Regions from separate parts of the Homo sapiens genome. Here regions 1 and 2 are each linked to region 3. Evidence: fine-mapped expression QTL. A gene starts in region 3. Each other region holds a variant in brackets. All regions are shown on one strand. Distances are between the middles of the regions.

Region 1 (11,176 bases), 71 kb before region 3:
GGAAATTCAGACAAAGAGACAGTCATGTGACCATGGAGGCAGCAATCAGAGTGGCTCATGCCTGTAATCCCAGCACTTTGGGAGGCCGAGACGGGAGGATCGCTCGAGGCCAGGAGTTTGAGACCAGCATGGCCAACACGGTGAGACCCTGTCTCTACTAAAAATATAAAAATTAGCCAGGCATGATGGTGCGCACCTGTGGTCCCAGCTACTCTAGAAGCTGAGGTGAGAGGATGGCTTGAGCCTGGGAGGTCAAGGCTACAGTGAGCCATTTTTGTGCTATTGTACTCAAGCCTAGGTGACAGAGATCCTGTCTCCAAAAAAAAAAAGAAAAGTATACAGGAGGACTGTGCAGGTTATATGCAAATACTACACCATTTTATATAAGGGACTTGACCATCCAATGATTTTGGTATCCTGAGGGATGGGGGTGTGTCTTGGAACCAATCCCCCAAGGATACAGAGGGATGACTATATACGTACTTAAATACAGTGGGGGGTGCGTATGTATGTATGCATGTGTGTGTGTGTGTGTATTATATACACATATATGTTATATATACAATAACTATATAACATGTAATACATAAGTATATTAAAAACATCTTAAAATAAAACACATGAGCAGGCAGGCAGCTTACATGCATCAGGTCCCGCCTCTCCTTCTCGCCTGTGCAAATGGCCTTCTTGATGGTCCGGAGCTCACTCATGATAGCCTGCGCCTCATCCAGTTTGTAGCTGGTGTGAGTACTTGACATCTTCCGATCAATCCTAGTTAAAACAGAAAAATCAATGTCATTTCACATGAGATCCTAGCATTCCATTAAACATACAACTACGAAAACCCAAAAGCTTCATAGAGAGGTGGAAACAGTTAAAGTAATGTTTTGGCTAAGAAAAAGAAAGACCCCACGGAAGCGTCCCTCCTTCTGGTCGATACAACACCCTTTGCTCAGGAGCACCCTGGGCAGGTGAAGACGTCCGAGACAGGATGCCCACGTCCTCCGCTAATGATTGCGCAACAAGATTGCTTGCTTGAGTAATTTCCCGAGACTGTAAATTCCTCTCTCTGAAAAGAGGACATGTTTTGTTTATCTCCAGGTTAGTGGTCAAAATCTTTGTTAAATAAACATATGAATGAGATCTGTGTACAGGGAGAATATATGGGACACAGCAAGAAGTAGTGAGCTTTCGATAATGGTGCTTTGTACAAAAGCTGGAAACCTTTTCTGTCTCCTATAACTCTGATTTCATTCTGGTTCTAATTTATTACTCACTCTTTCTCCTACCAAGTCCTCAATTCTTTCCTTCAATCCAAACACTCATCCAGGGAAAATGGCAATGTCCCTCCCTCCCTCCTTCCTCCCCTTCCTCCCACCTTTCCTCCAAGCTTCCATCCTCCCAGCCAGCTCCTGTACACACCAGGCCTGGGTCTGGGGCTGGACGCAGAGCACAGAACAAAACAAGACTTGGTTCTGCCTTCAAAGGGAGGTGGCCTCTGGAGCATGTCCTTTGTCACATCCCCTACACCTGAGGCTCCAGCATGGGAAGCCCTAAGGCTAAGGAACTTGAGAAATTTTGGTCCAGAGTGGAATGAATTCCTTCTCTGGAAAGCAACTGGCTTCTTTCAGGTTCCGAGTCTCCCAGTTCACAGGTTCTGGTTCTAACATTTCCCTCCATGTTATCCTGAAAACCTGGATCATTAACTGCCAGCCCCAACTCCCTTGCTTACCGCTCACAGGAACCTCTGGCATGCTGGTGGGTGCGAGTGGCACCCAGCTCTGCCACTCACTGGCTGTGGGACCTGGGTGAGTCACTTCCCCTCTTTCCACCTGCTTCTTCCTGTCTCAAATGGGGACACTAAAAATATTTCTCCCATGGGATGGGCATGAGATTTAATGAGAAAATGCAAGGTAAGAGCTTGCTTGGCAGGAGGCCTGGCATATGGTGTTTGCGGTGACTGTTATTATCAGGATAACACAGAATCTCCTTACTCATGGGAGAAAAAGTAAATAACTTGCCAACTCTGGTGTTTTATTATCATTAACAAATTCCTTGCCAAATATGTCACAACTCAAGCAAAACTCGGCACCAGAGTCAACCTGAGCTATCAGCATCCATGGCCTAGGAAGAGGGCAAACAACACAAGCAGGAAGCCATTGACTCCCTTTGAATAGGGCTCTGGGGCTCGGCAGCATTGCTGTGATTGCCATCAGCTACAAATAAAATATTTATAAACACTAGTCCTGAGTTCTGCCCCGAGGAGAGCAGATAGAGGCACACCGTGCATGGTGAATAATGACACTCCTAAATGCCAACGTGTCCTGACCCTGCAGGCACTTCCATAATGGCTGTTACAGACTTGTAGGTTTCTCAAATACACATTGCCTTGTCTGTTCCTACAAAGCAGAAGTCTTTATTTATACATCTTTATTAAAAGGTACACGTATCTTTAACTATAGAGTATTCCATGCCAAAAGTTAAAATAAGTGAGCATGAACTAAAGTTTGAGCTGTGGGCATATTTTTTCTTTTTATTCTGCTCTCATTAAATCCCTTCTTTCACAAAACAGTTCATCCAAATGATCAAGGTGGTAAACTTTAACAGTCTACATCACCTGAGGGTCCTCGGGAGATTTGGCAATAAAATAGAAAAAGTTCCCAGCACAGTACCAGCAGGCCAGTTGGTGGCTACTAAAACGTGGGAGCCAATAGCAAGAATGGTGACAGTAGGCATATAAACCCATTGTACATTTTCAAAACTCTTTTGTTTGTCCCTCAAAACCAGCCCCACTTCCATCAAAATGGCTGGCCTTCTCACTCACTGCTCGTAACTCACTGGGATATTCATGGAAGGGCTACCTTATACTTTCTTAGCTGTCATAGCTTCACAACACCTCCATTTTTTCAATTGTGATCCATTTTCATCCAACAAAAACTTCAAAGGACAGTAAATGTCTTCTTTTACTTCTGTAAAATTCATTTATTTGAGAGCACACTCTCTCTCTCTAAAACTTCCCTAAAAAACTTTGGTCCAATGTAGATGATGTGCTCAATGATTTGGTATTTTTTAAAAATATTGATGTATTCCAGTTCGTTTAAAAAATCATAAGATCTGTGACTGCCAAAGAACTGCCTTATTCTGGTCTTAATTTTAATTAAGAGTGCAAGACAGTGCCTTTACCATACATCACAAATAAAATGATAGAAAAGGTAACTGCTCAAGGAGACTAAACAAGGACATGAGTTATTATGCAGTATGAAATCAAAATTCAGTGCACAGACTCACAGTCTTTACTTTTGCACCCTCTACATTTTGCATTCAGCTTCAGGGACGTTAAGTGATTTGCTGAGGGTCACACAGCCAGTAACAGGCAAAGTGAAGTTCACAGCCAAGGCCCCCCACACCAGGACTTGTCTGCTCCATCACCAGGTTCGCAATATATTCAAAGTCAAGGCCTCTAAATGCCCATTGTGTCAAACCTGAAGGCCACCCATATAACCAGTCAAATGTCATCCCAAAGTAAACTGGTGCTCTTTATGGTGTGCTTTTGAAAGAAATGGGCTGGAGAGAAAAGAAGAAGATACAGCTTCAGATGAGGAACCTAGTACAATGGAAAAGGCATTTTAGAGATGTTTATTGTCAACCTCTACCTCCTGCCACCCTAAAATTTCCATATTGGTTGTTCAATTTAAGATGTCAAGAGAACTGCACTAGGAAAAATAAGAGTAAAACCACATAACTTCTTAACCCCACATCTTGAAGGAAAGAGCTGCCAGCCCTCTAAAGATATTCTGTGTTAATACCACAGATTACAACCCAGAAGAATGGAAAGGTTTGTTACAACTTCTACATTTTCTATCAGCAGCTCTGGCAGACGGCCTTGGGTGAACCTCAGAAAGCTTCCGGCGGCTTTCTATCAACAGCAAGACCTGTGTGGAACACCAGACCTGTCCCACAACCAGGAACAATCCTCTTTTTGTTTCCAGCCCATTTCTGTACGTTTCGCTGTTGTTATCTGAGCATTGCCGAGGTTTTCGCGTGGGCTGTTCCTTAGGTGCTACGCTAATGGGAGATTGTTACTTTAAGCCTGTTCTACTGAACAATCCCACTCTTTCTTGAAACTACTAAATCCCTTCAGACAGAAAATGCTAATTCTAATATGCAGTAATGCTTCATTCTGGTATTGCATGCTTAGAAGGATGTAGTGGCTCATATTTAAGGAGACAAATGGGTTTCACCCCATTTGGGAAGTTAATCAAGAAATCAAAAGTCTTGAAGCAGAGGCTCACCTAGTGGCTAAGAATGTACCTCATGGAAACTAGTTAGTGGAACATCTGGTGAGCATCCCTTTCTGTGATTTGAATAGCAGTGATAATAGGACTTCTTAAAACCCAGGCCAAAACAATATCACACAAAATGCAGAAGAGAATGCTGTGCTAGAGGACAGTTGGCAAGAAGGTGACTGGACAATGTCTAGAGGCCTCCCTGAGTTCCTCCAGCCCAGGGACAAAAGTTTTGGCCAAGGAAACATCTGCCCTCACTCAGAGTGTCCCAGTGTCCGAGAAAGAAGTGGACCCTGTGATGGCTACTAGCGGGCAGGAACAGCAACCTCAGCCACTCCCCCCAGCACCCGGGCAATCTGCATTCACTCCCAAGCCCCACCCTGTGCTGAGAACTGGCTGGGTCCTCAGGATGAAGCGGCGAACAAAGCCAAGTCCTTGTCTTCGTGCAGCACGATTCGAGCCAAGGAGACAGACAATGAAAAGTACATCCTTAGGTCAGGCAGTCACAAATGTTTTCAAAAAAAAATGAAGCAGTTTGGGGATAGAGTGTGACAGAGTACATTTTTAGATGGATGGTTAAGCCAGGATCTCTCGAGATGTCACTAAGCAAAGGCCCACGGAAGTGGGGGAGCAGGCATGTGAGAATCTGGGGGAAAGAGCATTCCAAGCAGAGGGAGCTCCAAGTACCCACGGTAAAGGCAGGACATCCCTTTCAAAGGTGAAACTAGAGGTAAATGAGGCAGGGCCGGGGGCCAGCCTATGTAGAGTCTGGCTTGTGTTGTAGGTGAGAGAGAGCCACAGAAGGACCACAAGGAGAGCACTAGCTGTGGAAGAACCCCATGGCTACTGTGTGAGGATGGAGACTCACATTAGTGCTTGGCCCAGAGCCGTGGTGGTGGAAGCTGTGAGAAGGATCAGAGGCCGGGTGTAGAAACAGCACACCATGGACAAGGTGGCCAGGCAGTGTTACCCAAAAGCATCTTCTGCCATCAAGCCAGTGCTCAGGGACATTATAGGTATCATGGCAGGAAAAGGCTCTAATAACACGAGCAGGAAACTCAGGGAAGGGCAATGTTAAATGAGCTTCCCAGCTGCAGGACCACTCAGAATCTAACATAAGGGGCCGGGTGCAGTGGCTCACGCCTGTAATCTCAGCACTGTGGGAGGCCGAGACGGGCAGATGGCTTGAGTCCAGAAGTTCGAGACCAGCCTGGGCAACATGGTGAAACCCCGTCTCTACTAAAAAAATATAAAAATTAGCTGGGCATGGTGGTGTGCACCTGTAGTCCTAGCTACTCAGGAGGCTGAGGCATGAGAATCGCTTGAACCCGGGAGGCAGAGGTTGCAGTGAGCCAAGATCGTGCCACTGCACTCCAGCCTGGGCCACAGAGTGAGACTCCATCTCAAAAAAAAAAAAAAAAAAAAAAAATCTAACACAAGGTACATTCTAGAGCTCCAGGCAGGAGCTGGAGAGGGGAATTTGCCCACATCTGTTGGTGCACTTGGTCCGTTCACGCACATCACCCAGTTGGGAAACATTGCACGTGTCCTGGTCCTGAGTCTTCCCTTTGCCTCTGGACACTAGTAGTAAGTTACAGTAAGGTAATTTTTCCAAAACGTTTCAGAAACTTTAGGGCAACAGAGTCCAGGGGACCTTTCACTGGAAAAGCTCAATTTTTCTCTAAACTTTAATTAGTCATTGTAAATGGTGCTCCTATTTTCTGAAGACTTTTATAAAAGGCCTCAAGAAAAATGCAAATTGAAACTACACTGAGATACTATCTCTCACCTATGAGACTGGCAAAAATGCAAATGCTTATCAACACATCCTGTTGGCAAAGTCACAGGAAACGAGAACACTCATATGTTAGTGGTAGGAAGGCAAAATGGTGCAACCCCTCAGCAAAGGAATTTGGCCATATCTAATA[C/T]AAGCTGAGTATCCCTAATCTGAAAATCTGAAATCCAAAGTGCTTCAAAATCTGAAACTTTTTAAGCATTGACATGACACCCAAAGAAAATGACCAGTGAAGCATTTCAGGTTTCAGATTTTTGGATGAGGGATATTGAACCAGTAAGTATAATGCAAATATTCCAAACCAAAAAAAAAAAAAAAAAAAAAAAAAAAAAAAAAAAAACTGAAATTCAAAACACTTCTGGTCCTAAGCATTTCAGATAAGAAATACAACCTATAATACAACAAATACATTCACCCTTTAACCTACCAAGCCCGCTTTCAGGAACTTATCCTGGAAGATACACATCCATAACTTAGGTAAAAAGCTGACAAGAAATGTTATTAATATAAATCAAAGCATTGGGCTAACAAGGCCAGAACCTACTGATCATCTTCACACCGCAAAAAGAAACAAGCACAGAGTGGTGCCTCCTGATGGAAGTAACACCACCACCTAAAAACATTCTTACTAAAAAAAGAAAAGAAATCCAACTTGAATCAGATCAAGCCTCTCAAACTATTACGCCCATTTGCATAAATAACAAGAGACAGAGGAACACGTTCAATGACATCATGTGAATTTCAGCAGCAAAACCCAACATTAGGGAAATTCTATAGGACAACCAAATTACTTTCTCCAACAAATAAGCTGTCAGGGGAAAAAAAGGAGGGAGAGTAGAAAAGAAAAGACGTAAGAGACACATCAACCAAAGGCACTCTGTGGCCCAAACTGGACCCAAACACCTGAAGAAATGCAAGAGCTCACTGGACACAAGATGCCTAGTAAATGGGGTACAGGGATTAGAGTTATTTTCAAAAGGAGTCCATAACTTTAGGAGACATATTTATGGATTAAATGGGATTCTGGCATTTGCTTCAATAAGGCCGTGAGAGCTTAGCAGATGGGGTGGGGTCACCACCGAAACAAGATTGGCAATTGTGCAGGTTAAATGGGGTGAGGGGTACAGGAAGGTTTCAGTATACTATTCTCTCTGCTTTTGTGTTTGATATTTTCCATCATTAAAAGCTTACATGTGTACACTTCACATAGATACACATAAAACACACATCTGTGTACATATTCTATCATTAACCCAGCGAACATATCTGTGGCCAATTCCTCTCTACAACAATCAACAACATATATAGATTTAAAGTAAAATACAAAAGGTTCTTTTTTCCTTACTTGGACCCAAGTGTAATGATGAATTTCCTTGCTAGCCAGGAAATTCACCAAGATAAACAAGGCAAGCTTAAAATGTTATAAGCAGCCAAACTCCTAGTGAGGTGCTCTGGAAAAGAATACACTGGATATTCTGGGAAGCAAGAACAGCAGGAAATTTTCTGGAGGAAAATCTCAGGCCACTGCCTTAAGCAATGTTGGTGATAAAATCAGAGATGCTTCATGTTTAGGTATAACAGCTCACCTGCTATCTGTACGTATAGTCAGGATTTCCCAGTAGAGATGGGGTAATCACATTTTCAATGCTTGAAAAGGCCTTCTAAAATTTCTCAATTAAAAAAATATACATTTGCATGATTCAATCCAAACCTAAACACCCAATGTTCAATACCAGAAAAATAATGAGGCTGTTTTCATCTCATAAGCTGTGGAACTCAGAGAAAGGCTACCAGATTATCTTCCACTTACAAAAATATTTTAAGAGTGGCACGGGTGCCTGGGTTTTCTCTTCTTCCTGTGAGGCTGTGTCTGTCCCAGAATAAAGTAAACATGCACAGTAACAACGCAGCGTCAGACAGAGCCAAGGCAACGTGCCCATTAAACAACAGCTCTGGGCAGCTCCCTCCTGAAAGCTAACTTGCCCCTGGTCAGGCATGAGGTGGGGTGGGCCCCTCAGGACCAAGGCCAGGTCCAGAGCCTTCCCCAGGCCACTCCTTGGCCTCCAGGGGGAGGGCGGGTATTCTCATGAGCTCAGGCAGACAGGAGGAGCCTCCCCTTGGCAAGTGGCAAGTTTACAATTGCTGTTCCCAAGCGTGGGATCTTGATAATGAAAGCAGAAAGACAATCCAAACAGCACTGGCCCGCCTCTCTTCCAGGAGCACAACTTGCGCTCCGTTTTGGCCGCAGGTGTTAAGTTAAAATTCTCGTTATTCTGGCTCCTGCTTCTCTGTCTAATGCCCCTAGGGAAACAGAGGCTGCCTTTTCCTATTCTTGAAACCACTGCAACTACAAAAGATGAATTCACATCCTAGCCATGCTAAGGAGAAGGGGGTTTTCTCAGTCAGCAGTACGTTTCAGTTTCTAAATCAGTCCATCTACAGCTGACACTGCTATATGGCCTTTGTCTTCAAATAAGGAAATGGAGTTCACCAGAACGATGGAGCCAAGGCAAAGCAACGGGCGCTGAGCCCAGCAACCCACTACAGAAACCATGGCCATGAGGGAAGTGCCAGACGTGGCTCCCTGCTGATGCTCAGGGATCCTGAGCAAACTCAGACTCTTCCTGAACCCCAGTCACCTTCCTCAGAGCTGCAAATGAGAATGACATTAACTGCAACCTCCGGCACACACAATGACTAACATTAAAACCACCTACTGGGCCGGGCGTGGTGGCTCATGCCTGTAATCCCAGCACTTTGGGAGGCTGAGGCAGGCGGATCACCTGAGGTCAGGAGTTCGAGACCAGCCTGACCAACATGGTGAAACCCGGTCTCTACTAAAAATATAAAAATTAGCTGGGCATGGTGGCGTGTGCCTGTAATCCCAGCTACTTGGGAGGCTAAGACAGGAGAACTGCTTGAACCCAGGAAATGGAGGTTACAGCGAGCCAAGATTGCACCACTGCACTCCAGCCTGGGTGACAAAGACTCCCCATCTCAAAAAAAAACCAAAAAAAAACAAACAACTACATATTGTCCAGAGACACTGTATCACAATGAGAGACAGCTACAGTGTGGCCTAATGAAGGTAGAAAATTCACCTCAAATCCAACTAGGTAGTCCTAATAACTTTTGGTGACCTGTCACAAATCAAATGATTTGTTTCTGCTTATTCTTTATCCACCACCTTAGCCAAAGTGACACAGGATGACACTGCCACAGCACACACAGTCGCATCTGAGGAGGTGTTGGAGTATCTGGAGGCTGGCTGGAGTGGGGGGCTAAAAGGACAAAACACACGTCGGTGCATTTGGAAAGCACTCTGGCCTATGCACCGCATGAATGACAAAACCAGCAGCCGGTTAGTTGGAAAAGAAGCTTGATTTGCTTAAGACAAAACTAAAGAAGAGGCCGGGAACGGTGGCTCATGCCTGTAATCCCAGCACTCTGGGAGGCCGAGGCGGGCAGATCGCCTGAGGTCAGGAGTTGGAAACCAGCCTGGCAAATGTGGCAAAACCCCATCTCTACTAAAATACAAAAATTAGCCAGGCGTGGTGGCGGGCACCTGTAATCCCAGTTACTGGGGAGACTGAGGCACGAGAATCACTTGAACCTGGGAGGGGGAGGTTGCAGTGAGCCAAGATCACACCACTGCACTCCAGCCTGGGCGACGAGAGCAAGACTCTGTCTTAAAAAAAAAAAAAAAAAAAGCTAAAGAAGAAGCTGTGCTAATACTAACTAGGGTTAATAAAAGGAAGCTCTGACTGTAGATCCAAAATGCACACAAACACATAGCTGGGTAATGGTAGATAATTACATCTGTACCTCACATTCCTTTATTACCTCCCCATAAAGAGCAGTGCTGCAGTCACGTGTGTCACCTCATGCATCTGCATGCAGGATGAAAGACGGCAACATGGTGCCCACCTGCGTCAGTAACAGTAACCACACAGAGTTGGACTAATTGTTTCGGGCTGGGCATGTACCAGGTGCTGGTGCTGTCCTCAGTATAACTGAGCACAGTGATTGCTGTTATGGACTGTGTGTTTGTGTGTCCTCCAAATTCTTATGTTGCAGCCTTACCCTCTAATGTGATGGCATTTGAAGGTGGGGCCTTTGGGAGGTGATTAGGGTTAGATGAGGTCACAGGGTGGGACCCCATGATGGGATTAGGAAAAGGAAGAGAGAACAGAGTTTTTGCTCTCTTAGCCATGAGAGGAAACTGCGACAAGATGGTCATCTGCATATCAGGAATCGGGCCCTCACCAGGAACCAAATATTGGACCTCCAGCCTCCAGAACTGTGAGAAACAAATATCTGCTATTCAAGTCACCCAGTCTATGGTATTTGTCATAGCAGCCCGAGCTGCCTAAAACAATCACCATTTGCAGATGAGAAAAGTAGGTGCAGAAGGCGTGCGGCACATGCGCAAGTTCAGCAAGGAAAGCCAGTGAATGGAGAGAACGGCTCAGCAAACCTTCAGACCCACACCAGCACCATTTCTCAAACACCACCTTTAGTTCATGAAACCTGCAGACTCGATACAGCTCACTAATTGTAAACAATTCATCCCCAATCTCTTAGTAGGGATAACGTTCTTATTGTAAAAATGAGAACAGGAGGAAGACCTACAGACTGGAATGTCCAAAGGAGCTTTCCGTGATGATGGAAATCTGTCACCTATGGTGTTCAATACAGTAGCCACCAGCACGGTGGTTCTCCACTGGGAGCAAATGTGTACTTTAGGGGACACTTGGCAATGTCTAGAAACATTATTGGTTGTCACAATACAGGTGGAAGGTGCTACTGGCATCTAGCGGGTAAAGAGTAAAGACAACATTCTTTGTGTTTTTGTTTGTTTGTTTGTTTTTGAGAGACAGTCTCGCTCTGTCGCCCAAGCTGGAGTGCAATGGCGCAATCTCGGCTCACTGCAACTTCGGCCTCCCAGGTTCAAGCGATTCTCCCTGCCTCAGCCTCCCGAATAGCTGGGATGACAGGTGCCCGCCAAGCGATTCTTGTGCCTCAGCCTCCCGAGTAGCTGGGATTACAGGCATGCACCACCACGCCTGGCTAATGTTTGTCTTTTTAGTAGAGA
Region 2 (9,476 bases), 91 kb before region 3:
GATAGCCACAGAGAAACTGCTGTTAAGTGTGGAAGGCAGGCCCAGCCTTTGACACAATCTGCAGTCTCACACAGCAAATGGAAACCAGGACACACGGCACACGAGGAAAGGCTGAACGACTCAGTGCCACCGAATACCAAAGCCACTATGCTGGCTTTGCATGTCCTGCGTGGTGAAGGAGCCTCAGGACAGACGCACGACAGGTGGCCAGCTTCCCAATGCCAGAGAAGAGCAGGCTCTCCTGGCTAGAAATCAAAGTTGGAGAGGAAAGCAGTAGGTGGATACCCACCATGCTCACCACGTCAGGAACAGGGAATTCTTCCCCCATGCAACAGAGCTGCCCGGGCCGGAGCGGGACCACAGCCTGCTCAGGGCACTGTCCCACAAAGGCAGGTGGAAGCACCAAGCACCAACTTCAGGAAGGGTGGGGCGTGGGCGGAGATGGAGGTCACCCATCTTCCCTCACTCCTTCCCCCTTGTCAATCACCTCCTGCTTCGGAGCAGAGGCTCCAGAGACCCAGGGAGCAGAAGGCAGTGCCCCCCACCGCATGCCCCTCCTAGGCCAGGGAACATCCAGGCAGGAGAGGCTCTGAGTGATCATCAGGAACACCCTCCAGCCACACACAAGCCACCCCGTGGAGTTTTTCCAGCAGGCTTTCCGCTGGAGGTCGTGTCCCCGCTGACCCACCTCTCCGTGGCGCCCTGTGCGGAGGTGGCCCGTGCACGCCGCAGCTCCTCCTCTAGGCGCTCCCGCTCCTCCTCCAGCCGGGCCACATCTCCCGCAGAGCGGCGCTGTGCAATGATGAGCTGAAGCTCCTGCAGCAGGGCCTCCTTCTCCTTGATGAGCTGCAGCCGGTCCCTGTCAGCCTCGGCCGTGCTTGGCCAGGACTCATTGTCAAGCCGGGCCAGCTGCTGCTGGATGTTGGCGACTCTGCAAGAGAGACGGGGAGGAAAAAAGGACATCGGCGGACTGAAAACGCCGTCTTCACACCTTCTCCACGTCTCACACTGATTCTATAAACTCCTTTTGCCAAATAAGTAGTGAAATGATTACACCAAGTGACCCTTACACTTAAAAGGATATGGAAACAATGTCCTAAAAAATGGTGCAGAAGTCTTTTCCTGAAGCTCCCTTAGCCTGAGATTCGAGATGAAAATAACCCCATCGTGCCTGTTCCGAAGAACTGACAAAAAGGCCAGCAGCCCTCAACATGCCCATACTCGGCGGCTCAGACTCCTGGTTTCCTACATGAAACTGTCCCAGAGCAGGAGGGAGTCTGCTTGTTTCTTCTGCCCACCCTCATCAGTAGCTAAACAGCATGCTGGACCCCCAGAAGTGCTGCCGGCCTCCCGCCTCCTCAGCTGTGTCTAACCACTGTCAGCCGCTTTAGCAAAATAACAAAGGAGAAATGCACTCATCATCTGGCGTCCTGAAGGAAAGACCTTCGAAGCCCCATGCTCCGCGTCTTCTGGTTCTGTGTGCTCCTTCCTGCACCAGAGCCCCTGGCCATACATGAATTCAAAACACCTTGCGGAGAGCAAGTGGGCACTCGACAAAAGCTGAGTGCATTGAACAGTGAACAAACACGCCTGCAAATATGTGAGAGGAAGAGAGGCAGCCCTGTGAGCATGGATGCTGGTGAGAGATGATCTGGGTGGATGCAAAGCGCAACAATCCTCAAGGTGGAAAAACAGAGGCTCCTATCAGTTTCCATGCCTCGAAATTTCCAAGTGCTTGCTTGGCAAACAGACTGCATTACTTTTTGTGTCATGAGGTGCTGTTGAATGCAGATTAAGTGAAACAGATGTGGCCTGTATTTTTAAAGCATCCTTTAAAAGTAAGAGTAGAATGTTTTAAGCCCTTTAAGTAGGGTTAAAGATCAGGGATATGTTTCTAGGGAGAAACTAGGAATGGCAAACTCAACCTGAACCCCATGCTGTGGAGGACATAGTTGGCATACTCGCCCAAAAACAAAATCCAGAGGCTTCTCTGAGATCACAAAGAGCTGTGAGAACAGGGAAGTGGCAGGCACACGTGGCCCTATATCCTCCGAGGGAGATGCAGGGCAGAGGTGCTCCTGAGACTGCCTCCTCCTGTGCCCGCGGTCCACGGCACTAACCAAGGCTGGCTTCCCACCTGCTGGGTCTAGACCTCAGAAGCCTTCTCTACACTATGAGCCATGTGGATATCCCCAATTGACTAGCATTGCCACACATGTTAAAACCTGCCACCCAGCCTTGTGCCAAGTCAGGCTCCACCTAAACTAGACACGAGCACATGGACTCATGAGGATCGGGCATGACTCCCTCTCTAGCCACCAAACGAATCTGAAAGCCCACAGTTAAGGAAAGAAACGGGTACACAAGTTACAGTTTAAATGTATGCATTTTACTCAAGTCCACTTCAACAAGGTAAAGACACTAGTTGAATGTCAGTAGCTTTATTAGACAAGTTATTTTCTAACTTAAAACTAATGTCTGGAAAACGTGTTGGAAGATGGTGCCAAACCATGTCACCAGAAAAACTAATGACAGAGGCAGCTGAACAGGGCTAGGACTCCAACTGGGCTTAAGCATCCACCTACGTCTAATTAGTGTAATTAAAATTTATGGCAGTCATATATCCAAAGCCCAAGGAAAATACACTCCAAGCAAACCCACAAATAAGTCAGTGCTAAATCAGACATTATACCCAATGACATTTCTGGAACATTCTACAGTAGACCAAGACAAGTTAAGAAATAAATATAAAAGATGAAGAACAATCAGCAAATCTGTGTCCTCATACTTTTTTTCATTTCCATTTATCTGATCCACAGGAAAGTCTGAGCCCAGCTAAATTTTGCCCGACCATTTTATACTCATACTAATTACCATACATATAATATAAACAGAAGTATTTTACAGAACACTCCTTTTGAGTTTTCTGAGCCTTAAATATGAAGAGATCAAGATTCCATTTGAGTCTGCCAGCTCTAGGTTAGCTGCTAGCCTACAAGGATTCAAGCTGTTGAAGGTGGCGGAAGATCCAATTCCAGATAATCACAACCTTTCCAGGAAAATCTCAAGTAATATGCACTGTCAGGAAAAAAAGAATGAGGAAAAAAATGAATTATAGGAGGGAGGAGAGGCAAAGGGTGAGTTTCAAAAGACCTGTCTGCTGCAGGCATAAAGAAACAGAACAGCAGCCCAAATTAAACCATGTCCTGTCACTTCCCACAGCTGGCAGGAAAAATATGCAAGGACAAACGGCAAGGGACGACCTCTCCAGCAGAAACAAAATCTGCAACCCATCTGGAAATGTTTGGGCTGTGCTGAATGCTAGGCAAACATTTCTGTGCCTTCCAATTGTGGGGTTTAATAATAAAATTTCAAAACAATGCAACAATGCAAACAATCTCATCTTCATTTCAGAGCTATATATGAATCTAGAAGAAACTGGAACATATTGAAAAGTTCAATTTCTTTCTTTGTCCCCATGTTCTAGGTGTGAACATTTGGGGCCTGCTTCAGCAAGGTCGAGAGAGGCACATCTGTCTGTCTGTCTGTACTGGAAGCCAAAAGCACTAGGATTCCTTCAACAATCGATTGTTCTTATGTCCCCATGAGACAGACAAGACGGCTTTGCCTTTAAAACCGTATGACTTGTCTACCTTGCCGTGGGCCGGAAACGAGCCATCTGCAGGGAGTATCTTTAGTACGTTAGGTTTACTTGAAGAAACAGACTTCC[T/C]GCCTAAGGCTAAACACAGATGTACTGAGTTTCAATGCACCTTCTTCTACATCCACGCCAAACAGCTGATCCACTGGTTGGAGCCTCGCTCCTGTGAGTGCTGTTGTTCCAATTTTGGGTATTAAAGGAAAAACAATTTCCAGAAAGGCTTTTCTTTGAAATATCATTTCAGTGAAATTAAATACATGGAAGTAAAGCAAGGTCATGGTTAAAGTTTGCAAAACAAAATAACTTTCCCGAGTTTTTTGTAAAGAGAACTAATAGCAGCTTAAAATTAGAGAGGATTTTTTTTTTTTTCTGTGAGCCAACTATATTCTTCAGTGATTTTTATTTTTGAGGGGTAATGCATTTTATGGCCTATATAAAATCTCTCCCAAATGCCTTTAAAAGCCTTAAAATATATGCCCCCGTGTCCTGATAGTGAAGAAAGCAAATGTTCAATCAAGCATGCAGGTTTCTTATTTATTATGTGTTTCCCAAATTCTATTCCCTGAGCAGGTCTAATGTAGACAGACATAAAATATGAATCATTTTTCCCTTATGATTTTTGCTCAAACACTTTTCTGTTACAACCCAGGCACCATTAAACCATGCATTTATGCCGCAGAAACTATTTAGACTCTCACAATTCACATGAAAATCTTAAATACGATTTGCATTTTTATAGGAAAACAATGCACTTTCAATAATAAAAAGTTCTGAGGCATATCAAGAATAATCCCTAATTATTTGAATTTATACCAAAAATCTGCAGTCTACAATATCATTTCTCATGGTCCTAAAATCCTGCTGCTTTCTGGAATAGCAAGCAGAACTCTGGACAGCCCACGGTCCTATCCCATGGTGATGAGTCGTGAGGGATCCCAATGGCACATTCCAGGACGCGGGGTCAGCTTAGAGCCTCATACCTTCAGATTGCAATTACGGCTACAGGTTCGATACTCCTTACATTTTCTCTTAGTTTTCTTGTTGTAAATACCCATTTAAATAAAAAGCAAAGGTTAAAGAAAACAGCTGAGATGTAAGTCAGATGGACAATGAAATCACTTCAGCTGATTGAACTAAACCAGCGTCCATTCTACTCAACTCTTTATGTCAGAAGTTTGAGAAGTCTGAATCTAGAATATGTGGGATAAGAAAGGTCTACTAATACACCAATATCTCACCCCGTCCTCAGCTTCCCAGCCCTGACATCTTCTCCCTTTGCAACAGACAGATCTTCAGAGAGCAACTTCATCAAATAAAAAGCAGTGAGTCTACAGGCTTCTCCGTGTTGACCAGAATAGGGAAGACAGAGCCACAGTGGCAAAGATGCTTTTCCTTATTTCTCACAACTGTGCCCCACCCCTAAAACCCAGATAGGAAGTCATTTGAGAAATGAAAAAATCCAAGTGATTGATCAAATTCAACTGGAATCATAACACTACACTGATCCTCGACAACTGATGAACAGCAGGACTGATCCTGGCAACAAAAACTAAGAGGCAGAGAAACTGGATGGACCGAATGTTTTGTTCCTATCTGGACTGAGAGTGTTTCTATGGTAACAGCTACAGTTTGTGCACAGTTCTGGAACAAGCGCCCTTAAGTTAAAAATAAGGAGCCATCTGCGTCATCGGGATTGCTTCAAGAAGACTTGCTCTTTCAACTTCACTTTTAAAATTTCTGAAATTTTAAAATCAATAGTGTGAATATTCCTATCATTAGGTCTGCCTTGGGAATCCGAAGAGGCGCTCCTGAGGCAAGGTGCAAGCAGTCCTTTTGGTACGCTTCACAGGACCCACAGTTAAAAACACAAAACTAGTCATCATGATAGTGGTCGTTTGGCCAGAGAATTCTCTAGAAATCACATCACCACTCAGAATTATGAGTTCCACTTCCACAAACTTCCTTTAAATCTGAATATATATGAAATCCAGCTGAGTGGGGTGGCTCACACCTGTAATCCCAGTACTTTGGAAGGCTGAGGTGGGTGGATCACTTGAGGTCAGGAGTTCGAGACCAGCCTTGGCCAACATGGTGAAACCCCGTCTCTACTAAAAATACAAAAATTAGCCAGGCATGGTGGCACGTGCCTGTAATCCCAGCTACTCAGGAGGCTGAGACACAAGAATCGCTTAAACCCAGGAGGCAGAGGTTGTAGTGAGTCAAGATCACGCCACTGTACTCCAGCACTCCAGCACTCCAGCACTCCAGCCTGGGTGACAGAGCGAGACCCTGTCTTCAAAAAAAAAAAAAAAAAAAGGAAAGAAAAAAAATCTGAATGTATATATATATATGAAATCCCTCATTGTCCAGAATTCGGCATTTTTGACAATTTCCCACATCTTAAAAATAATCTCAAATATATATGTGCAAGGAAAGACGTCCAAAATGCCTAAGGCATAAAATCCTCCACTGTTCAGAAGTGGCAAAGCACAGGAGGTTCTGCAGAGGATATACATGATGGTTTACTTTGTGTGTCAACTTGCCTGGGCTAAAGCTTGCCCAGATAGCTGGTACAAACATTATCTCTGAGTGTGTCTGGGAAGGAATTTCTGGAAGAGATAAGCATTTGAATCAGTGGACTGAGCAAAGAAGATCCACCCTCACCAATGTGGGTGGGCACCATCCAATTCATTGAGGGACTGAATAGAGCAAAAGGGTGGAGGAAGGGTGAATTCTGTCTGTCTTCTTGAGCTGGGACATCCACCTTCTGCCCTCAGACACCAAAGCTCCTGGTTCTCAGGCCTTCAGACTCTGGGACTTACACTATGACCACCCACCCACCCACCCCACTCCACACCCCACCCCACCCCCAGTTCTCAGGCCTTCAGACTTGGACTGAATGAGACCACTGGCTTTCCTGGGTCTCCGGCTTGCAGATGGTGGGACTTCCTGGCCTCCATAATTGCGTGAGCCAATTCCTATAATAAAATAATCTCTCTCCCTTCTCTTCCCTACCCCTACTCTTGTTGGTTCTGTTTCTCTGCAGAACCTAATACAGTAGGGAAGGTAAGCTTGCAGGGTGAAATGATTTCAGGAATGAGAGCTGGGAGATTAATGTCCAACGGCGAAGTAGCAGAACGAAAAGACGACACTGAATTGTGGCACTAATCTAATAGAAGTTCACCTGGGCAAGAGGAAAGGGCACATGATGTCCCTTAGGCTTGGAATGAGGGAGCAGGGAAGAACGCATTATTCTTTGCTAACACTGCCACTAAGAGCAACGTGTTCTTTTTCATGCTTTGGTGGGTTGATGGGGGTACATGATGCCTTCCTGCTCATGGCACACCACTTCTCCAGGGACGCTCACAGGGATATCAGAGACATTATCTCCCAGCCTGATCAAGGGGGCCGAGGAAGAGACCATGGACGGGACCTCAAAGCCACCATGCTTTGCCTGTGGTACTCAGCACCTGGCTCCTGGAATGTTAATGTTGAGTTCTTGCCAGAGAACCACTTGCCACTGCTCTCTCCCCAAGTCTGTATCGTTCTACTCTCGTGCCTCACTTAGAGGCAGTCCATCAGAACACTCGGAAAACACCATTGTAATGAAATCGCTCATCTGGTGCTGGGGAGACCTGATAACATCAACCCTTCCTAGCCTTCCATCTGTCTACAGGGATGGGGCAGAGGGGAGCCAAGACTATCCTGACAACGCTACAAGGTATGTAAAGTCTAGGGCCTTGCCCAGGCTGCTAAGGGTTATGTGACCTACAGCTGAGTAGTTCACATGGCAGGCATGCACTTACTGGTCAAGCCTTAGCTACAGTAACCAATGTGGAATGACTGGAGGCAGAAACAATCACACCAAGGGGACTGGAGACGTGCACCGCCGCATCTGGGAACCAGAGCCCGGAGGGAGCTGCAATCAATGACTCAGCGAACTGCAATCTCCACTGCGGACTCCACCGACAAGAACACTTCATGGATGTTTCTCAGCAGCTTCAAGTCCACTGAAAACACCAAACTCATGGTCAAAACCAAGATCTGCCTTTCAAATGACCCTCCACTTTACTGTGAGCCTCTGGAAACCCTGTTTAGGGTCATCCTTCTCCTTTAATTCCAGGGAGAGCACCATCTCAGTCACACTTCCCCCAGGCCAGTCCAATTTAAGAAAGGGGATGTGCTGATGGCAACAATTTAGGACTGCCAGCTTGTTATTTTGCCAAGTAAAGACTTTTGGAAAAAACCAATTCACATCAATGATCATCATTAGTTAATTAAGAGAAAGATGTTTTAACAGAAAAAAATATATATGAAAAAATGTATATTAAACACGTATTATAAATATAATATATAAAAATATACAATAAATATGTATTAAATATATATAAAACATATATTAATTATATATATTTATATGTATGTATGTACATATGTATGTATCTCTGAGAATGAGAGGCTTCTTTGACTGGAAAGCAGCGAGTTGGCTTTAGGAACACCTGCCGCTGGCCCTCCTTTTTCCCATGCACTGTGGACTAAGGACACCTCAGGCTGGGCTTGGGAAGCAGAGGCCTGCCTGTCGGCCAACGGTACCACCCCCTTTTCGTTCCTTCACAGCCACTGGGCCCGTGGACATAAGTGTCTTCTCAGGTGTACTTCCTCTTCTTGTTTCCTCCAGCCCCAGCCATCCCCTCTCGGACCTTTTACTACACCCCTCTGGCCAGTCTCGTCCTCGCCAGGCCTTTGATTGGACTTCCTCAGGCTCAGTCCTGGCATCTCCTCTTTTCTCCCTGTGTTCCATCTCCCAAGGTGAGCCCAGCTGCTCGGTGACTTCATCTCTATGCCATCTGGGTTCCTCAAATGGCCCTCCTCCACATACCACCATCTGAATGGCTCACACTTAATCTTTCCAACTCAAACGTCCCAGCATGCCCAGCAATTCTGACCCCTCTTCGGGGCATCGTGGCCCCCATGCCGTGGCCTGCCTCCCTGCTCATGCATCCTCCATTCCAGCCTGGCTGGCCTTTGCTCTGCAATTCCAGGCCAGTCCAGCTGCTGCAGAGTGACACCTTACCCCCACTCCTGACCCCCACTCTTACCTGAGAAAGCCCATCCCCAATGGACGGCGACTGGAATCCCAGCACTCCTTCAGGACCCAACTCCAATGCCATTTTCTCCAACCCCCAAGGAGAGGATTAATTATGGAGTTCAAAGGCTAGTAGCCCTTTTGAATGTCCATGAAGGCCCAGAACTGTTAGTCTAGCTCGGTGTGTTGACGTATCACACCTTGAACATAGTCCTTGAAAGGGAGAGACAGTTCCTTGCCTACCTCAGATCCCTAAAGGCACCCATGTCTTGAAGCCCTTTCCCTTCTCAAGTCAAGGCGAGAGACCCCAAGGCTCACACCTGGATGGAGGTTTGAGGAAGGGACCCAGGAGCAGAGCAGTTGGCCTGGAGCTGACCTGGCCCCGGGACTGCCCTGGCTTGCCCCGTCCCAGGGGCAAAGGCCAAATAGCAAATGCAACCACACGGGACCCTCATTTACTCATTCAATAAATATTCACCAAGTATGTAGCTGCTGGGCTTACAGCAATGACCTACAATCCCTGCACTCATGAGGGTTATTTACATTTTCACAGGGAGAGACAGGCAGTAAGAAAAGTAAACACTGGTTAGGTAATAACATTTGCTCAGCCAATCAGGGGGACCGGGGTGAGGACAGGGTGGTGAGGTTTTATTCAGGATGGTCAAGGAAACCTCTCTTAACAAGGTGATCAAAAGGAGAGGTCATGTGACAATTTGGAGAAAAGCCACCCCA
Region 3 (11,176 bases):
GTGAAAGGAAGGAGAAGGAAACTTGGAGATTTCCAAACATCCAGGAGCTATTTTTGGAAATGAATTACTTTTCCTTTCACTTTTCTTTAAAAAATAAATAAATGAATAAATAAATAAACAAATAAATGGAAGGAAAGGAAAAGACCAAAAAATGTTAGACCAAAAAATGAGGATTGATGATCTAAATGGAAGCAAGAGCCGCTTCTTCCAGGGACTGACCCCTTACAGCCTTAAAAACAAGATGCTCCCCCATGTTCATACAAACACTATCTATAACCTTAAAAAAAGAAAAAGGGAGAAATCATTACCTGTTTATCAGAAAGCTCAACCAGGACAGTTTATATAGTCCAAAAATAGACTCTGTGGGATGAATATAGTAAACCTCCTATTAGTTAATACTGAATAACTAAATAAAGGTTCCAAGAAGGTAGCAATGATGTTATTTGGCTGTTAAATGGGGATCCAACCTAGCAAATTCCAGAGCTATGGATTGTTTTCCTCTTAAAGCAAAAGCATCTTCAGAAGACTTTTAAGATACCACAGAATTCCTCCATGAAGCACAGGTCAAATCCCATCTGGTGAACAAATGGGTCCCCAAAAGCTTATGCCATGACATGATCTTGCTCTTCCGCCATCCGCATGATTATTTATACTTTGATCTCAAATATGGTATCGTCCACCATACTTAAGCTGCCCAGAGCTGGCATTTCCAGTACCGTACAACTCCACCTGAGCTACAGGAAATGGAACATGAGGTTTCAAACACTCAGTCCATCTATAGGATAATACCCAAATAACCCTGCAAGACACACACGTAAACACAACTGTCAAAGACAGTGAATCTTTACAAAGGGGGCAAAAATGTTCTTCCCATATTTTCTGCCCAATGGTAAATACCTTTTCATAAGGTGGTCAAGTTATTCTGAGTTAATATATTCAGTTAAGATATTAGTGTGCCACTAATGTAAACCACACAAGACTCATGTAAGGAAACTACCAGCCATAGAAATAAGTTAACTTTGTAGTTTGTTTTTTCGTTTCTTTTTTTTTTTGGTGTGGGGTTTTGTTTCGTTTTTTGAGACAAGGTCTCACTCTGTCACCCAGGCTGGAGTGCAGTGGCATGACCACGGCTCACTGCAGCCTGGATCTCCCCAGCTCAAGCAATCCTCCCATTTCAGCCTCCTGAGTAGCTGGGACTATAGGCGCACGCTACCCCGCCCACGTAATTATTTTATTTGTTTGTAGAGACAGAGTCTCCCTATGTTGCCCAGGTTCGTCTCGAACTCCTGGACTCAAGCAATCTTGCCCCCTGGGCCTCCCAAAGTGCTGGGATTACAGGCATGAACCACCACGCCTGGCCTAACTTTGTAGTTTTTAACCAAGTTCTTGGGTATGATTCCCAGTAAACTAACTATGAAAATTATATGTACAGTATCAATCTATAGAAATAGTGAATTTAAAGTGAAGGTAGGTTTTTTCGTTTGTTTTTTGAGACAGAGTCTCTCTCTGTCACCCAGGCTGAAGTGCAGTGGCGCGATCTCGGCTCACTGCAACCTCCACCTCCAGGGTTCAAGTGATTCTGCTGCCTCAGCCTCCCAAGTAGCTAAGACTACAGGCGCACACCACTACGTCCGGCTAATTTTTGTGTTTTTAGTAGAGACAGGGTTTCACCACGTTGGCCAGGCTGGTCTTGAACTGACCTCAAGTGATCCACCCACCTCAGCCTCCCAAAGTGCTGGGATTACAGGCATGAGCAACCACGCCCAGCCAACCAAAGGTAGGCTTATAATCAAACTAAAAAATTGTTTTTAAAATATTGAGATTGTGTATACATCTGTAGCCACATCCGTAAAGACGTCTCCTTGTATCTTCTTTGTTGTAACTTTAAAAAGCAGTTACAATAATTTCACCAACAGGCTCTGAGCCGGCACTATCAAATGTTAAACACAACACTGAATGGAATTACTATAAAACTCAAGAAGAGATTTTGTTTACAATCCTTGGACCATATTTTATGCTATACAGTTTTTACTAAAGTTTATATGAAATTATGTTTAAAGTCAACAACAATTTTCACTTAACCTACTACATTCATTTATTCCACCACAATTTCATTTTCTTAAAGAGAAAAAAAAAGCTATTATGTATTTGCCTTTCTCCTGTCAGGTCTCTATGTGGAAGCTGTTTGGTGAAAGTCCTCGTATTTCTTGAATACCATTTTCCTGTGTGACTCAAAAGCAACTCAAAAAGGGTTTTAACTGTCAGATGCGCATGGAGAAAACACTGCCCTCTGACATGCAGTTCTTCCCATATAATAAAAGTTAATTACAACTTTAAAGGGTAACCCGCCACCTATAAAACTCGGCCAGGTTCTGTTTTGAAAGAGGAAGAAGAATGACTATTACAGCCTTCAGCCGACTCCACTTAAATGTTTGTGGCTTGCTGAACATTCCATACATATTTCGGGCAAGGTATTATGGGAGCTGAAGTTCAAGCTGTCCCCTGCTGAATTTTCACTCACTATAAAAACAACGTCTCATAAAAGTACACACGTTTTTACTTTACAAAAAAAAGGTAAAATATCCACTTTTGTTGACTCAATTGACAATTTTAGCATCAGAACGGAGACTTTTTAAAAACCTTTAAGTGATTGTCTGAAAAGTAACAAATCGATTTCTGGAAAAAAGGAATATAGGAAATGTGTCTGAAATACATGGAAAACAAGATTCTCCAAGCTGATTTCTGTATGGTCCATTCACGTTTGTCACAGGTTACACCATTAAAAAGAAAATCCTCACATTGATATCTTTCAGCATGAATCTCCACTCCAATATAACCACAACTGTTTTATATTACCCTTGGAAAGTGAGCCTTAGCCTTTTCTAAGCAAAACACTATTTTAATTGGTTCATTTTCCAGTTGTTTGGGTTTTTAACATACATATGGTATAAAAGGGCACTGCATTCCAAGCAGTTCTACCAATTCCAGAACCATCCAAGGGTTGATCAAACAGCTGGGGCTCTAGCCTTTGGTTAAAATTATAACATGATCTCACCTGATTTTCAAAATAACTAGGCATCTTTTTAACCCATAAAATTGTACTAGGATTGATATAGGTTTCTGAGCCCAGAGGTTTGCAATGTTCAGCGAGAATGTTAGGGAATCACGATCTTTTTGTTTTGCTTTCTTTTGTTTTCCCCTGCTTGAACTCAGAGAAATCTTCAAACAATTCAGCAGCTTCTCTCCTCAAAAGTTTATTTTCAGACGCCAGTGCCATGCAGGCCGCCTTCCCTGTGCAGGTAGGAGGAAGCAGGCACAATGTCACCACACTGGGCCTTTGCAAGTCTTCAAATCACTGGGAAGCCTGTGGTGTTTCCTTTTTGGCACTCAGGCCCTGGAAGGAGAGTTGCTCTAGAGAGGACAAGACATCAGATAACCTGTGGAAACACTTGATGTCCACAGAAATCCCAATTCCACACAAAATACATCTCTGTAAAAGCAGTTGAACAATCGAAACCCGTAGACAATCGAGCAAAAAGTTAAGGAAGAGCTTCGTTACATGGAATTAATTAAATGAAATCTGATAGTGCTTTTACAAGAATCAGTTTTTACTTGATTGGGTTTTTATACGTGAATAAGACAGCTTTGTACCCCATGCATATCTTTCACAAAAAGGAAACTTAAAATACAATTCTTGTTTTTCGTTTATTCCAAAAGCATATGGGACTAATCATATTGCATTCTGGCTGCAGTACAGAAGGCTATTTCAAACAGTTTTAACTCACGAGTTTTAAGGCGCTAAAGAGCAACTAGAGTTTGGGAACAGACTTCTCCAACTCCAAAAGGGTTGGGAATCCCTCAAGGGCCCGTCTGACATCAGGTTTTGGATGGAAACCAGCCTGAACCCGCCAGACAGGGAACCCGCACCCCAAAGCTGGGGCGCACGTTTGTGATCCAAGGTGACAGCTCATCTCGCCACCGCGGGGCTGGGGACACCTGCAGAACCAGGGCCGGGGCAGTGGGCCGCAGACGCCCGGGACCGGGATGGGCGAGGCTGCCGCAGAGAAAGGAAAAGAGGGCCATCTGTCAGCCCCAGGAGAGGAAATTCCAGGAGCCCAGTTCCCAGGCGCCGGACAGCGGGTGACGTGAGGGAACCGAATGAGAGGGTCCGCCCAGCGGCGGGGGACCTGTAGGCGGCCGGCCTCGGCGCTCAGAGGGCTCGAGGCCTGGAGAAGGGGCACCTCCATTCTTGGTCAGAGCCCTGGGAGTCGGGGTATTGGGAGGGTGGATCCTCTCCCGGACCCCCGGAACCAAAGATCTTCACCCAGCCCCGAGGGCCTCCTGGTGTCTCCGATCCTCTCCCTGGGCCCAAGGGATGGGGGCGCCTCGATCGTAGCCTGGACCGGAGCACTCCAGGGAGTCCCCTGGTTCCGGGGATGGAGGCGCTCCGAGCTCTGCCCGGGCCCGGGGGCTCTCGGCGGCGGCCCCGCGCTGGGCGGGGCGTGTCCCCAGCGCATCCGCGGTGGCGCCGGCCGGCGGCCCGGGTCGTAGCGCCCGCGCCGGGTCTGGCGCCCCCAGCCGGCCCGCTTACCGGTCGCGGGGGTCGATCCACGACGTCTGGCGCGTGTTGTGGTCAATGTAAAAGACGCGACCGTCGTAGTCTCGCGCCTCCTCCCAGCCGGCGGGCAGCGGCAGCTCGGCGCTCTCCCGGGCCCGCGGCGGCGGCGCGGAAGGAGCTGGGGGCGTGGGGACCGCGGCGGGGGGCGCCGGCGGCGCGGTTCCCGCTGGGGCTGCGCAGAAGGCGGCGGCTCCCGCGGGGCCTCGCGCGGCTGTCCCCGCCGTCGCCGCCGGCCGCCGCTCAGCCAAGGCATGACGGCGCGGGCCCCGCCGCCGCCCGGCCGCCCCGCGCGCGCCGCCTCCTCCGCCAGCACTAAGGCCCGGCGCCCGGGGCGCGGGGGCGGCCGCGGGGAGCCGCCCGCCGCTCCTGGCGCATCCTCCGCCCGGCGCCCGTGCACCGGCGTCCGCCCGCCCGCCCTAGCAAGCCGCTGCCCGCGCCGCCCACTCCGTTCAGGTAGCCCGGGTGGCCGCCGCGCGCGAAGTCACAGCCCGGGAGCCGCCGCCGCCGCCGCCGCCGCTGCCGGCCGCCCCTCCGTTCCCGCGGCGCGCCCGGCCATCTTCGTTCCTCGGCGCGGCCCGGGCGAGCAGGGGCAGGGCGTTCGCAGGCCCCGCCTCCGGCCGTCCCGCCCCGTTCTCACCCAGGCCCCGCGGCTCCTCCCACGCCGGCGGCTCCACCCACGCCGGCTGCTCCTCCCGAATCTCCCACGGAGGCTCCCGCTCCTCCCGCCGCCTCTGCTTTTCCACCCACTCCCGCTGCTCCGCCTCCCCCGGCCCCGCGTCCTCCGCGCCTCTCCGTCGCCGGCTGCTCCGCCCCCAGTCTCCCTCGGGGTCCTCCTCGGCGCTCGGCTCCTCGACCCCACCCCCACCCCTCCGCTTGCTCCTCCCCCTCCGCCGTCCTCCCTCTCCGCGCGCTCCTCGCTCTCTCCCTCCCGCTCCGCCACCTTCCTCCGGCCTCGGGAAACCGCATGGAGGCCAGGATGGGCGCCGCCGCGTCAGTCCGCCCCCGGGCCCCCGCGTAGAGGAAGGCGGGCGGGGAGGACGACGCCCTACCCGGACTGCGGGCGCGGCCTGCCTGGGGTGACTCCTCGGGCGCAAACAATTCCCGAGAGAGCGGGCAGTGCCCTCCCTTCACCCGCTCCCGGGCTCTGGCTGTCTGGAGACCCTCTGCGCACTTGGCGGGAGGCTGCGCCCTCGGTCTCCCACACAACCCGTCTGGTCCCGCGAAGGTGGGAAAAGCCCCTGAAGGCGGGGCCGAGGGAGCTGAGGAGCTGGGGGAGCCCGCGGCCGGTCCTCTCGGGCGGCGCAGGGAGGACGCCTCTGGAAGCGGGCAGCTGGGCAGGTGGCCACTTTGCGTCCCCGCCAGGACAGCCCTAGAAGGGCTAACCTGGGGGCCCACACTAGGCGGGAGTTCCTTGACCTTCCCTGAGCGCTTCATCCGGTTTGTGGGGTCTGATCGTTTGAGCGGAGACCCAAGTAGACCATTGCTGGGGAGGAAGCCGGGTCAACTCCTAAAACTTTCAGCCTAGACGGGAACTTCTGTTTCACTGGCTCCCAGCTGGGGAAGCTGAAGCTCCAGAGTTGGGGCTGTGTCTTGCTCTAAATCTCCCACCTACTTCGTGCCCCAGACCCACAGCCGCAACACGTTATGCCAGGAAATGCAGGACAGTATCAGGGAGATTTTTAAACAGTTACAGTGATACAAAAATATCTGGTAGAGCCTGATTGAAATCCAGATACACAGGGGAAGAGACTGGAGGAAAATGTCCTGAAATGCTCACAAGAGTTTGCATTCCTTTGGCGGGATTTTTAAAAATGATTTGCCTTCCAATTTTTTGTAAAATGGTAATATTACTTTTATGAGGGGAAAGGTTGTTTTAAAAAAGAAGAATGGGCCGGGCGCGGTGGCTCACGCTTGTAATCCTAGCACTTTGGGAGGCCCAGGCGGGCGGATCACGAGGTCAGGAGTTCGAGACGAGCCTGGCCAGCATGGTGAAATCCCCGTCTCTACTAAAAATACAAAAATTAGCCGGGCATGGTGGCGCACGCCTGTAATCCCAGCTACTCGGGAGGCTGAGGCAGGAGAACTGCTTGAACCTGGGAGGTTGCAGTGAGCTGAGATCGCGCCACTGCACTCCAGCCTGGACGACAGAGTGAGACTCCATCTCAACAACAACAAAAAAAAAATTAGAAGAATGTGGGGCCGGGCTCGGTGGCTCACACCTTTAATCCCAACACTTTGGGAGGCTGAGGTGGGAGGATCACTTGAGCCAGGGAGGTCGAGGCTGCAGTGAGCCGTGTTTGCACGATTGCACTCCAGGCTGGGCGATGGAACAGAGACCCTGTCTCAAAAAAAAAAAAAAAAAAAAAAAAAGAAGAAGAAGAAGAAGAAGAATGTGAAGTTGTGAAGGTATAGCGACGTCCAAAAAACTATCCAAGGAAGGTCTTTCCTCTCCCTCCTCCTACTACAACACAGAAACTTTCTTGCTCCCCAAGTATCTATCTACCCCTACCTGAATGTTCTATGTGAGAAATTCCACCGCATGAGTCCTTTTAAACATGTGTGATTATTACATGTCCAAGGGAAAGAGTGGGAGGGTCAAAAAAGCACATATTTTGTGATGTCGCATGTGCCAGGGAATGCCCCAAGTGCTGAGTGTCCCTGCTCTGACATCTTCCCTTCCGATTGGCATGATTTATCGCCAGTGGGGCTGCCACTGCCTTCTTACCTTACCACCCAACATGGCCGTTCTGAAGCTGCATTTCCACCCTCCCTGTCACCTGGTCCTTTTAGAATCTCACAAATCTGGACACAAATCTATCACTCGAAAGTACTTTGAATGGGGCTGGGGCGTATTGGAGTGAAACCGACTTCTGCAGAGAGAGAGTGGAAAGAGGAGAACACATACACCACACATCAAAGGACTCAGAAGGAAAGGCAAGATGAAAAAAGCATCAGGTAGAGCAAGGAGTGGGGGAAACTGCATCCAATTAGGAGCTCAAAGAGGCCAGCGCCGAGGAGTCTTCACTGAAGGTGAAAGATTTCTACCCGTTCAGGCGGGCAGCAAATAGTGGACCTCCCACGCGCAGACACTGTGCTGCGTGTAGGCATGCTGCAGGGAAGAGGATAGTCTGTGCTTCAGCTTGCACTCCCTTGGGGACTAAACATAGAAATAGGCCCTTGTAATACAATTGTCACTTGTCAACAAATGAAGCCAGGGTGCCAACCTCAATTTGGGGACTCGTGGGAGGCTTTGTGAGACCAAAGGGAAGGTGCCTCAGATGAGGAAACTGAGGCTCAGATGTTCAGATTCCCAAGTTCTGAGCTCTTGCCCCTTGGCACATGGAGCTGCTGTCATGAAATTGTTTACTTGTATAGCAGATGCTGGGGCGGGCTCCCTTCTTTTGGAGTATTGTGAAGATGACCCTTCATTAACACAGATGTCTGAGAGATTACACCCAGCCCCAGGAGCTGACCGTCCAGTTTCCTTGCCTTGGTGACACAAACTCGAATGCCCTTGACACCCCAGAGCTCCCCATGGGATCCCCCATGGGATCAGGCTGAGGCTGTACTTCTCTGGAAATCATAGCTTTGCCAGCTCCTCCCCTGCCCGGTCCCGCCTCCCTTACTCGTGTAAGCATGCCTCCAATCAGCCGCTCACTCGAGAACCCCCGTCTCAGGCACCCTTTCTAAAGAGCCTGACCTAAGATAGGCTCCTGCACACTTACTGTCATCTAAGCACTTAGCAAATACGAGCTCATTTAATCACCAAAACATCTAGAGGCATTCCTACTTTCATTTGCACATTAATAGAGGCAAAAGAAGTGTGACACAGCATGCCAGAGAAGAGAGATTGGAGACCCTCACTGAGAAAACTTCATCCACATGCCCAGCCACTGCCTCTGGACACTCTCTGCCTGAGAGAACAGAAGTGGGGCTATTGCATTTGTCTTCCTAAAAGGAGCTGAACCAGAGAGGAAGAGGCCAGCGCTTGGGGTGACCAAGACCTCTTTATTACACCATTAGTCCTTTTCCACTTGTGTGCAATGTTAGCCCCAGGCGTTTGCTGATGGTCCCTAAAGACTTGTGAATGGAGATGGAAAGGAAGAGAAATTGGTAGGGGTGTGAAGGGACTCTTGACTTCCCAGCTTTGCCATAAATTGGGATCGATCTCTCTCTCTCTCTCTCTCTCTCTCTGTCTCTCTCTCTCTTTGTGTGTGTGTGTGTGCGTGTGTGTGCGTGTGTGTGTGTGTGAATTGTTAGAATAAGGCCTGTCTTTCTTACAGTCAAGTGGGGCTTTCCACATCGGACTAAAAACCACACACACACACAAAACACTGCAGGGCGAAGGAGTCTTGAGTCCTAACTGAATGCACAATTCTACATTCTTTATTTCCTCCGCATTAAAACCACAGCCGGGCCAACAGCAAAAGCACGAACATTGTGTAGTGCTCCATCCTCCCACCAAGACTTCACATGGAAAAGCAGCTCAGGAAAAATCCACTTAGTCTCTGGGGAAAGGAGATGCAAATGCTTTTGTTCTCCTCCCAGACCCTCTGGGAAATCCCCTTTCTGAAGCTGTTACAATGCACTGATCTCTAACTTGCAGAATACTTTCCTTAAAATGATGGTTAAGGAGTAACTCCAACAAGGACAGAGTCTGAAGATTTTTACTATCAGATTCTGCCTTCTCTCCCCAGCCCTCGCCTAAAGGATAAGCTTTATTTGTAAAAAGGAAAGTGCAAAATTGGATCCATACACATTCAGTACTTGATAAGCGTCTAGAAAAGGAAAATCTGTAAAGGCTACAATCATCAAGTGTAAAATGAGAAAAATAAACACCGCCAGAGAAGTCTTGCCTACCTTGTATAAACAATCAAGTGTTCTAGGAAGCGACACATTGGGTAATTCTACACATTGTGCTAAGAGGAAAACGGAAATGGGCCGGATTAGGTCTGAAGAAGAAATGGTTCATTGTTTGGCATTCTTTAAATGCTAGAATAATTACTCAATTATGGGTGTTTCTCATATATTTAAATAATGCAAATCCACAAGCACTGGAGGAGATTAGATGTTGTTCTTGTTCATTCCTGTCTTGCTGGTTTAGGGGCATCAAAGGAAGGGTAAATTGCAAAGATCCCTAAGGGGACCCTCCCCAGGCTCAGGAGTTGGAATGGGGACAGGGTGAGGTTATTTCTTGGTGTTTTATTTCATGGCTTTATGTAAAGACGTAAACTTTAGACACTTATTTGACTTGTATTAAAAAAAGTCACTGTTTAGATTTCGTGTGTGGACGGGGGGCACTTTTCTCAACTGGGACTTCCTTGATTTGTGTAGATGCGTCCATTTTGAAAATTCAGGTTTTTCTCATGTCCTAATCTTCCACTCCAAAGACAGGCAGGGTATTCCCAAAGCGTCCACTGTGTGGATAAACCTGCCAGTCTGCGTTTGGTTCATTTTAGCGCTTAATTCCCGTGTCTGGATGCGCATCACAAAACAACATCATCCTTGGAATCAGTGAATGGCTGTCATGCTTTAAGCACGTTGCATTTGTGCCTGGGTGATTAAAATTCAGATTTTTTAAAAATGTAGACCAATTTCTCTCCCAAACTTAGAAAACTCAGAGCCACTCACTTCCTTCGTCTCCAGGTCTCCTCTTCCAGCCTTACACTTTTACTTATTTTCCTCCCCTTCCCATGGGTTCTGTTCCACAAAATGTGAAGGGGCCAATTCAAAATGTATTCTAAGCACACCATAATTTTAGGAAGAGGCAGCAGCCGTGAGCCAGCACACTACAAGATACTTCCTCCTGGCTGGCTTCTCTCTTATTTAGGATTAGAGCTCTGGTCCCCTGTGTATTTGGAAAAACAGATCCTTAAAACTACAGACCTCTGCTTTATGAGCCAGGCAGAGCAGCTCAGAAGTCTCAGGCTTGCAGAGACAAGAAGGAAAATTTATCTCACTCAGAAATGAGCAATCTTTGTTTTTCATTTGGTGACACTAGCATTAAAATTAGCCTCTCTTGTAACATGAATGGAACCATTTCTGGACACAGGTAACCAAGATGATTGTTATATAATCAGTGACTCAACTGGGGGGGCGGGTGATGGTGTCCCCCAGGGGACATTTGGCAATGCCTGGAGACATGTTTGCTTGGCACAACTGGGAGACTGGGGTTCCTGGCATTTAGTGGGTAAGGCCAGAGATGCTGGCACACATCCTGCAGTGCCCACAACAGCCCAGCACCAGAGAATGATCTGCCCCAAATGACACCAGTGCTGAGGTCAAAAAAACCCTATGAGATATGTATAATGTATTGTTATTATTTTTTTGAGACAGGGCCTCACTCTGTTATCCAGGCTGGAGTGCAGTGCTGCGATCACGGCTCTCTGCAGCCTCCAACTCCCAGGCTCAAGTGATTCTCCCACCTCAGTCTCCTGAGTAGCTGGGACTACGGGCATGCACCACCACACCCGGTTTATATATATATTTGTAGAAAAGGAGTCTCACTATGTTGCCCAGGCTTGTCTCAAACTCCTGGGCTCAAATGTGTAATTTATG

What was found. PIP is the estimated chance that this variant, and not a neighbour inherited with it, causes the effect.
Region 1: its variant is the best candidate, but not a certain one, in a credible set for the expression of WWC3 in whole blood (TOPMed, PIP 0.71).
Region 2: its variant is the best candidate, but not a certain one, in a credible set for the expression of WWC3 in whole blood (TOPMed, PIP 0.69).

Annotation. Positions count from the first base shown.
Region 1 is chrX:10,080,366-10,091,541 of GRCh38, reverse strand. WWC3 (WWC family member 3) reads right to left here. Exons shown (of 24, transcript NM_015691.5): 7 at 642-771. Among named protein-coding and RNA genes, the nearest start is that of WWC3, 71 kb to the right of the region's middle. RefSeq lists an enhancer at 8,156-8,656. The variant C/T (reference allele first, on the strand shown) is at 6,215.
Region 2 is chrX:10,101,233-10,110,708 of GRCh38, reverse strand. It overlaps WWC3 (WWC family member 3), which reads right to left. Exons shown (of 24, transcript NM_015691.5): 10 at 689-931. Among named protein-coding and RNA genes, the nearest start is that of CLCN4, 51 kb to the left of the region's middle. RefSeq lists enhancers at 1-572, 573-1,290. The variant T/C (reference allele first, on the strand shown) is at 3,731.
Region 3 is chrX:10,009,274-10,020,449 of GRCh38, reverse strand. WWC3 (WWC family member 3) reads right to left here and starts at 5,196. Exons shown (of 24, transcript NM_015691.5): 1 at 4,777-5,196; 2 at 4,592-4,774. The coding sequence starts at 4,871. RefSeq lists silencers at 5,224-5,283, 5,324-5,493 and enhancers at 5,314-6,197, 6,198-7,081.